Linked DNA regions of Homo sapiens: region 2 is linked to region 1. Evidence: fine-mapped expression QTL. A gene starts in region 1. The other region holds a variant in brackets. All regions are shown on one strand. Distances are from middle to middle. Region 1 holds the start of THRAP3 (thyroid hormone receptor associated protein 3). Region 2 overlaps THRAP3 (thyroid hormone receptor associated protein 3).

Region 1 (4,387 bases):
ATTTGTTGAATAAATTACCCAATCAACCAGAGTCAAACAGTGAACAGATCTTAGATGTTTATAGAATATGTGTGAAAAAATCCACCAAAACCCTGTATTTGAGAGAATAGCATTAACCAGACTTCCTTGCATTCAGGATGTCAATATGCCCTACAGAAACAGGGTAGCGCCCTAAAATGCTTAGTGGTTAGGACTATCCATTCTAAAAATAATAAATCGTGGCCGGGCGCGGTGGCTTACGCCTGTAATCCCAGCACTTTGGGAGGCCGAGGCAGGTGATCCCCTGAAGTCAGGAGTTCAAGACTAGCCTGGCCAACATGGTGAAACCCCGTCTCTACTACAAATACAAAAATGAGCCAGGCGTGGTGACACACACCTGTAATCCCAGCTACTCAGGAGGCAGAAGCAGGAGAATCGCTTGAACCCAGGAGGCGGAGGTTGCAGTGAGCCGAGATTGTGCCCCTGCACTCCAGCCTGGGTGACAGCGCGAGACTTTGTCTCAAAAAATAATAATAATAATAAATCGTATGTCTGTGTACCCTCCCAGTCATCAACATTTCCCATCTCTGTGCTAATCTCAGAAATATTCCAAGCTTCCTCCCTCCAATTCCTCGGAACAAAATAGATCACTCTTTTTGTAATCCATATTTTGCAGGCTAAACCAAATTTAAAAGTACCTATATATTTGGTATTAAATAAATACACTAAGGTGGTACTACTACTACCATCACCACTGCTAAAATTGAACTGTACCTAGTCTACAAAACTAAAAACATCAGTCTCCAAAATTGGAGATCTTTCTCTGGTGTTAAAACGTTTAAAAAACAAAGAGATGGAATTACACTGGATATAGAGGTTTTTAATCAAATCACTTCTTACAGAAACCTCAACACAACTCTCTTACAAAATGCAATTAAGCCCAAATGGCTGCAGTAAAACTTATCATTAACGTATGAACATTGGCTCACAAAATACATCTCCCGGCAAAGAACAAACTGAGCCCGATTTGCTCCACAAGTTGTTCATGGCAGGAGCCGGTTTTGGCTATTTAACAAGCTTCTAAATCATAATACACACGTCAGACTGTCTAGAATTACAGAACAGACTACAACAGTACTTCCACAAACGAAAAAAGTCAGGGTCATCTGAAACAGAAGAAAAATAACGGTGTGATACACGCCTCATCTCTCTCGGCGCACACTCTAAAAAAAAAACCTATAAATGATGATATTACTTTTTAACAGTGGCTAAGTGATTTTTATTTTATCTCATTTAGTCTCCACAATAACCCTGTAAAGGGGTCACTGTTACTTACTGCTGTTTTAGTGATAAGAAAACTGAGGCAGCTGGAGATGAAGACTCTTGACCTAAGATCAAAAGATAGCAGGGCCAAGATTTAAACCCAAGCCAACTGGTTCAGGATACTTCTGTTATGCTCCCAACAGAAGCTTCACTGCCTCTCTCTTGCCAGGTCCTTCTATACTCTCAGAGGCTTTCCCTTCACCCCAAGTAACAAATTCCCCATAAACACTGTACTGCCACTGATGGCTTCCAACTTCTGTGCACCATTGCTGCTCCCCAGCTTCTGCTGCCATGCTCCACCCCTAAGATTTGTAAAGTCAAAGACAACAGTTGATAAAAGTTGCTTAGGTGCTAAGAGAAGCAAAATAATTCACCTCATATAAGCAGAACTCACGCCGATTGCCACTGGAATGCAAGCCGGCCTCAGCTCCAGCCCAAGAAAAAAGTGAGAACTCTAATATTCCCGTAGGAGACAAATTTGGACTATCCCGTTTTTGGCCACCAGGCTGGAAAGAACGGAAGCGGTACTAACATTTACTGAGTGGCAGCCACATGCGCCCTAGGAGAAGACCGAACCAGGCCAATGGGGACTGGGTGGGGGGAAGGGCACTCGGGAGTTCCGGGAAAAGAAATCCAAATAACGGGGTTCATACGACCAAAACGGGAGGAGTAGGGAGTGGCCGCCCCCAGGCCGACTGCAAGATAAAGCGGCGTAGGAGCTGCTCTGCAGAGAAGGCGACCAAGAGCCTTGGGAGCTAGGCCGGGGCCAGGGGAAGACCTAAAGGGCGGGGAAGGGGAGGAGCCGGAGGGAACGGAGCCCGCTCAGAAGAGGCCAGGGTGTAAGCTGGGGGGAGCGACTCCACGCCAGGCCTTCCCCGAGCCCCTGACCAGCAGCTGGGGAAAAAAGATAAGAGACGAAACCACTAGAGCCGGTTAAGCTGCCCTAACTTCCATCAGAGGCGCTCACTCACCTGGGCCTACCACAGAGATCGCAGCTGCAGCTCGCAACGGAACAACCAGCCCGAACCTCGCCCCCGCCCCACAGCGCGCCCAGCGTCTCCGCTCTCCGACGACGGCGACGGCGTAGACCCGCTGCCTCCTGGGAAATGTAGTCCTACGCCCTCCTCTCCTGGCCGACTTGGCTGCCATCAGAACTACGTTTCCCAAAAGACAAGGCGAGCGTTGGGCCCGCCGCTTTGCGTCACGCGCTCGGTTGTCGGCGGTCACGTGGGTTGCTCGGGGCCGTCCCCTCCCCCCGCCTGGGTGGCCTGGAGATGGAGGAGGGCGGTGGACGGAAGGGGCGGGGGCGTTGCTGACGCCACTGCCCCCACCATTTTGGAACCAGCCTGGAGGGAGAGTCTGAGCCCCACCCACTCCGGGCCAGCTTGCCTTGTTGAAAAGCTTCCGAGTTGGAAGTCGAGTCTCCCTGTTTTTGGTCTCTGCTGCGCTCCCTTCCGCTTTGTGACCTTGAGCAAATTCATCCCTCCTCTCTAAACTTGTTTCCTCCCCTGTGAAATGAGACTTGTAATTTCTACCCCACAGCGATGTTGCCAGGCTCCGACAAAGTAAGGCACAGGAAAGCCTCAAGCACCCTGAAAGCGCAACGCAAATGGAGGGGTTGGTTTGGTTTCGTTTTTTTAATTTTAATTGTGTGACCTCATTCGGAGACCCAGAAACCGCCTCTCCCCAGCCTGCCTTCTGTAACTATGATTTTCTGACTGTCGTCCTGGGAAGTTTGTTAAAATGGGTGCTACTGGGGTATTGAACCAAAAGTTTACCGGGGAGTGTCTCCCTGCAGTCTACATTTTAAACCGATCTCTCGGGTGATTCTTACCCACCTACAAATTTGAGAATCTCTGCGTTTATCAGTTTTGCACAGGCTGGTTTCCTCCGGAATTTCTGCTCTAGTGTCTCTGAACATTTAAGACCCATCTCATAGGTCATCTGTGATGCTTTCAAAGTTGACTAGCTCCTCCCTATGCCTGTGTTCCCACAGTAAGTTTGCATCTTACTCTGTAAGTATCGGGGCCTTCCCCGACAAGACTGTGAGCTCTTTGAGAGCCGAGATCAGTTTTGATGGATTTCTGCACCTCCAGAGAAAAGTAGACACAGTACACATCAATTAATAAAGAAATCTAATGCTCTTCCTAAGAGAAAAGCTGCAAGGCTCAACTCAAGTAGCAGACCACGCCACATCAGCCCTTGCCCTTAGTGGCTTCGGCAGCATTCCTTGCACACGGCTTACTCTTTCTTCCTTCTTTGAGCACTTCTTGTGGTCGACGTACTGCGCAGTGCTTCTTAAAACGTTCTAATTTAATTGATTTTATTTTTATTTATTTATTTATTTATTTATTGAGATTCTCCCTATGTCGCCCAGGCTGGAGGGCAGTGGTGCGATTTTGGGTCACTGCAACATCTGCCTCCCAGGTTCAAGCGATTCTCCTGCCTAAGCCTCCTGAGTAGCTGATTTTACGGGCATATGCCACCACCCGGCTAATTTTTCTACTTTTTGTGGAGACGGGGTTTCGCCACGTTGGCCAAGCTGGTATCAGACTCCTGACCTCAAGTGATCCACCTGCCTCGGCCTTCCAAAGTGCTGGGATTACAGGCGTGAGCCACGGGGCTGAACCAATGTAATTTTAAATTCAAAGATTTTCTGGGTGTCTACTGTATACAATGCCCAGTGTAAAATACTGGGAACACGGTAGTAAACTAGATGGATACCAAAATACATAATTTTGGCTCCCCTTTTAAGAAATACAGGCATAGGCCGGGCGCGGTGGCTCACGCCGGTAATCCCAACGCTTTGGGAGAACCGAGGCGGGCAGCTCACCTGAGGTCAGGAGTTCGTGATCAGCCCAGCCAACATGGCGAAACCCGTTCTCTACTAAAAATACTACAGATTAGCCGGGCGTGGTGGTGGGCACCTGTAATCCCAGCTACTCAGGAGGCTGAGACAGGAGAATCGCTTGAACCCAGGAGGTGGAGGTTGCAGTGAGCCGAGATCATGCCACTGCACTCCAGCCTGGGCGACAGAGCAAGACTCCGTCTCAAAAAAAAAGAAAAGAAAAAAAGAAATACAGGC
Region 2 (4,387 bases), 33 kb before region 1:
TGCTTTTACCTTATTTGAACAATGATTCAACTCGTACTGGATCCCAGACACTACCCCAAAAGAACACCCGCAGCACCACTGGCTTCTTCACTTTACAAGTCAGCATACACTTCTGAAATGAGAGAAAATAAGTAGTGATAAAATGGCTACCCAAATGCAGATTCTGTTACTGATGCTCAAAATCTATAAACACAAACCCTACTTTAGCCCTCAGCTTTACTCCAAAAGGACCCAAGCTTTTCTCTCAAAGTATGAGATGGTCTGCCTCTGTCTGACAGGTTTTCATTCATCTAACCTCCTACAGTATGGAAAGCAAAAGCCTTCCTTACTGTAACCTGATACTTTCACTGGCAATATTTCAGGTGCTAAGGTTTTCATTATGCAAGACTAATTCACAAGCTCCACAAAACTCAACCTGGTGAACCTGACAAAAATCAGATGTTTAAAATAAGAAAGCAATGAACAGAAGTATATTAAAATGAATTTAACAAATGCATTTCAAGGTAAAGTAACTCTCCGTACCTACCCATAAAAGCACAAAAATTCCCTTCTGCTCCAGTTGTCTATTCCCAGATCTATGAACATGGTCATACATCAAAGCTATGTCCAGCGTTTTCCAAAACAAACAGGAAAAACAAGTTCCAAGACCAGCAAGCTCATGTAGGTAATTAGATGTCCTCACTCCTGCCTTATCAAAACTTTGTTGTTATTCTTATTACAGGGGCAGTGGCTCACGCCTATAATCCCAGCACTTTGGGAGGCCAAGGCGGGCGGATCACGAGGTCAGGAGATCGAGATCATCCTGGCTAATATGGTGGAATCCCGTCTCTAGTAAAAATACAAAAACAAAATTAGCCAGGCGTGGCAGCAGGCACCTGTAGTCTCAGCTACTCAGGAGGCTGAGGTGGGAGAGTGGCGTGAACCCAGGAGGTGGAGCTTGCGGTGAGCCGAGATCGCGCCACTGTACTCCAGCCTGGGGGACAGAGTGAGACTTCGCCTCAAGAAAAAAAAAAATTACTAACAGGATAATACTGTTTTATCCAGATGAGGCTTAGTATTCAGATCCTTTACCAAATAACAATGTCGGTATGTGTTTCTTTATTAATGTAAGTACAAATATAGCACTTTAAAAAACTCACTCAAAATACTTTTTCATGTCTTCTCGCTATGTATTCTTCTAATTCAGCCTAGGTTACATCAGCCAAAACTTCTTCCCCTGATTCCTCACTCCAGAGGCACAGAGGGCTCACATCAGTCAGCTCTGCCTAGCTAGTGAGGGAAATCCCATGTCTGCTACAGGACTGCAAACTGCTCTTATGCTGTAACATGTTGAATTTAAAAAACAACCTATTCCAAGCCGGGCGTGGTGGCTCATGCCTGTAATCCCAGCACTTTGGGAGGCCGAGGCGGGCGGATCACGAGGTCCAGAGTTCAAGACCAGCCTGGACAACATGGTGAAACCATGTCTCTACTAAAAATACAAAAAGTAGCCGGGCATGGTGGCACATGGCTGTAATCCCAGCTATTCGGGAGGCTGAGGCAGGAGAATCCCTTGAACTCGGGAAGCAGAGGTTGCAGTGTGCCGAGATCGTGCCATTGCACTCCAGCGTGGGTGACAGAGCGAGACTCTGTCTCAAAACAACAAAAAAACACAATCTATTCCAATACATCCATCTTTCCCTCTAATTCTAACCAGATGGCAAAAGTACACACACATAAATCTCCCATTTTATTACTCCATCATATTTCCTATTAATTAACCTCTTCTTGGATATTGGCAAGAATTTTATCATTCCAACAAGTCTTCAATTCCCCATTGTTGCGATGAGTGAATAAGCAAATCTGAGGCTCTGGCCTTTAGTTACTCTGTGACAGCGAAGAGACACCTGAAACCCTGAGTCACCCCCTGCCACCACAGTTGCCCTCCTCCTGCCTAGCCTGTCCTGCATGTCATCTGGCCAGCCACAGGCATACTTGTCAGCCTCTATCTCCTGAACCTCCTTTGGCCAAACAGCAGTGTATTAGCAAGGAGACTCCACAATAGACCCTCTTCCCTTCTACACATTACTAATTGTCCACTTATTCAACAAATAATTTATTAAGTACTGACTACATGCCAGGCACTATTCTAAACACTGGAGGTTCAATAATTTAAAAGTCCCTTCATGCCTGGAACTGACATTCTAGTGAGCAGATGAGGGCACCTGGAGGAGTAAAAGTTATACAATTTTATATCACGCATTAAGGGAAGGCCTCTCTCATGAGACAGCTGAGCAGAGACGGAAGAAAAAGAGTATACTGGGCCTTATCTGAGGAAACAGCAAATGCAAAGACCCTGGGGAGGAAACATGCCTGACTGTCTGAGGAAGAGACAAAAATAAGAATGTCTGCAATGTTGGCCAAGCGCGGTGGCTCACACCTGTAATCCCACCACTTTGGGAGGCCGAGGCGGGCAGATCACCTGAGGTCGGGAGTTCAAGACCAGCCTGAC[C/G]AACATGGAGAAACCCCGTCTTTACTAAAAACACAAAAAATTAGCCTGGCGAGGTGGCTGGTGCCTGTAATCCCAGCTACTCAGGAGGCTGAGGCAGGAGAATCACTTGAACCTGGGAGGCAGAGGTTGTGGTGAGCCGAGATCGCACCACTGCACTCCAGCCTGGACAACAATAGCGAAACTCTTGTCTCAAAAAAAAAGAATGTCTGCAATGCAAACGGTTACCAATGAGCTGTTGGTAGATCAGGTCAGAAACACAGCTGAATGGACAGGGCCTTGCAATCAAAGTAAGGACTTTGGTTTTCCTCTGGGTAATGAGGGCAGCCACTGGAGTGTTTAGAGCATAAAATAGGAGCATAATTATGTTTCAAAATACCACAAACTGCAATGATACATGCTCGCTGCTGCGTGGAGAACAGATTTTAATGGGTCACAAATAGAAGAAATTAGTAGATAATGCCCAAAATAATCCAGGCAGGGTCGGGCGCAGTGGCTCATGCCTGTAATCCCAGCACTTTGGGAGGCCGAGGCGGGCGGATCACGAGGTCAGGAGATGGAGACCATCCTGGCTAACATGGTGAAACCCCGTCTCTACTAAAAATACAAAAAATTAGCCAGGCGTGGTGGCGGGCGCCTGTAGTCCCAGCTACTCAGGAGGCTGAGGCAGGAGAATGGCGTGAACCCAGGAGGCAGAGGTTGCAGTGAGCCAAGATTGCGCCACTGCACTCCAGCCTGGGGGACAGAGCAAGACTCCATCTCAAAAAGTAATAATAATAATAATAACAATAATAACAATAATAATAATAATAATAATCCAGGCAGGCCAGGTGTGGTGGCTTACAACGATAACCCCAACATTATGGGAGGCTGAGGCAAGAGAACTGCCTGAGCCCAAGAGACAGAGGCTGCAATGAGCCATGTTCACACTACTGCACTCCAGCCTAGGTGACAGAGCAAGACCTTGTCTCAAAAAAGAATAAAATAATAATAATGATCCAGATAAAGGACAACAGTGCCTTAGACCAGCGTGTCACTCAGAACGCTCCCATGTTCCACACATTAGTAGACCTTAAACGACGATATAGTTTCCAAATCCAAACAAAGGGTAAACGCTAACATTCTAGGACCATACCATTTGTATCTCCTATGGTACACAAGACTGAATTTTTTTTTCCTTATCTCACCTCAAGTACCCCTGGCAATCTTTCTTTCTTTTCTTTTTTTTTTTTTGAGACAGAGTCTCACTCCCTCACCCAGGCTGGAGTGCAATGGTGCAATCTCAGCTCACTGCAACCTCCGTCTCCTGGGATCAAGCAATTCTCCTGCCTCAGCCTCCCTAGTAGCTGGGATTACAGGCATGCACAACCACACCCAGCTATTTTTTTTTTGTATTTTTAGTAGAGACAGGGTTTCACCATGTTACCCAGGCTGGTCTCAAGCTCCTGACCTCAAATGATCCGCCCACCTCAGCCTCCCAAAGTGCTGGGATTACAGGCATGAGCCACCGCGCCTGGCCTGGCATTCTTTTTTTTAATTAAATAGAGACAGGGTCTCACTATGTTGCCCAGGCTGGTTTCGAACACCTGCCCTCACATGATCCGCCAGCCTCAGCCTCCCAAAGTGCTGGGATTACAGTGCGAGCCACAGTACCCGGCCCCTGGCAATCTTTTATTGAGAACTACAGAACATAAGGAAACACTTTGCCCACTCTTGTGAACCTGAGGCCAAAGATAGTCCTTTAAACCACCAGGCGTAACAAGCAAGCTTATGTAATACTTGAGGACTAATGTGTTCTTGTTTCAAAAGCATGATGATAGCAATTAAAAGCGAAAAAAAGAAGACAGTGTCAAGTTAACCCAAAGTATCTAATGAATAACAAAATGTAATCTCAGCAAT

What was found. PIP is the estimated chance that this variant, and not a neighbour inherited with it, causes the effect. A credible set is the group of variants that fine-mapping cannot tell apart.
Region 2: its variant is the best candidate, but not a certain one, in a credible set for the expression of THRAP3 in whole blood (TOPMed, PIP 0.71).

Annotation. Positions count from the first base shown.
Region 1 is chr1:36,222,392-36,226,778 of GRCh38, reverse strand. It overlaps THRAP3 (thyroid hormone receptor associated protein 3), which reads right to left and starts at 2,336. Exons shown (of 12, transcript NM_005119.4): 1 at 2,274-2,336. RefSeq lists enhancers at 1,890-2,418, 2,250-2,459, 2,419-2,946, 2,860-3,159, 3,370-3,539 and a silencer at 2,590-2,709.
Region 2 is chr1:36,255,107-36,259,493 of GRCh38, reverse strand. THRAP3 (thyroid hormone receptor associated protein 3) reads right to left here. Exons shown (of 12, transcript NM_005119.4): 2 at 10-112. Among named protein-coding and RNA genes, the nearest start is that of THRAP3, 33 kb to the right of the region's middle. RefSeq lists a silencer at 1,825-1,884. The variant C/G (reference allele first, on the strand shown) is at 2,492.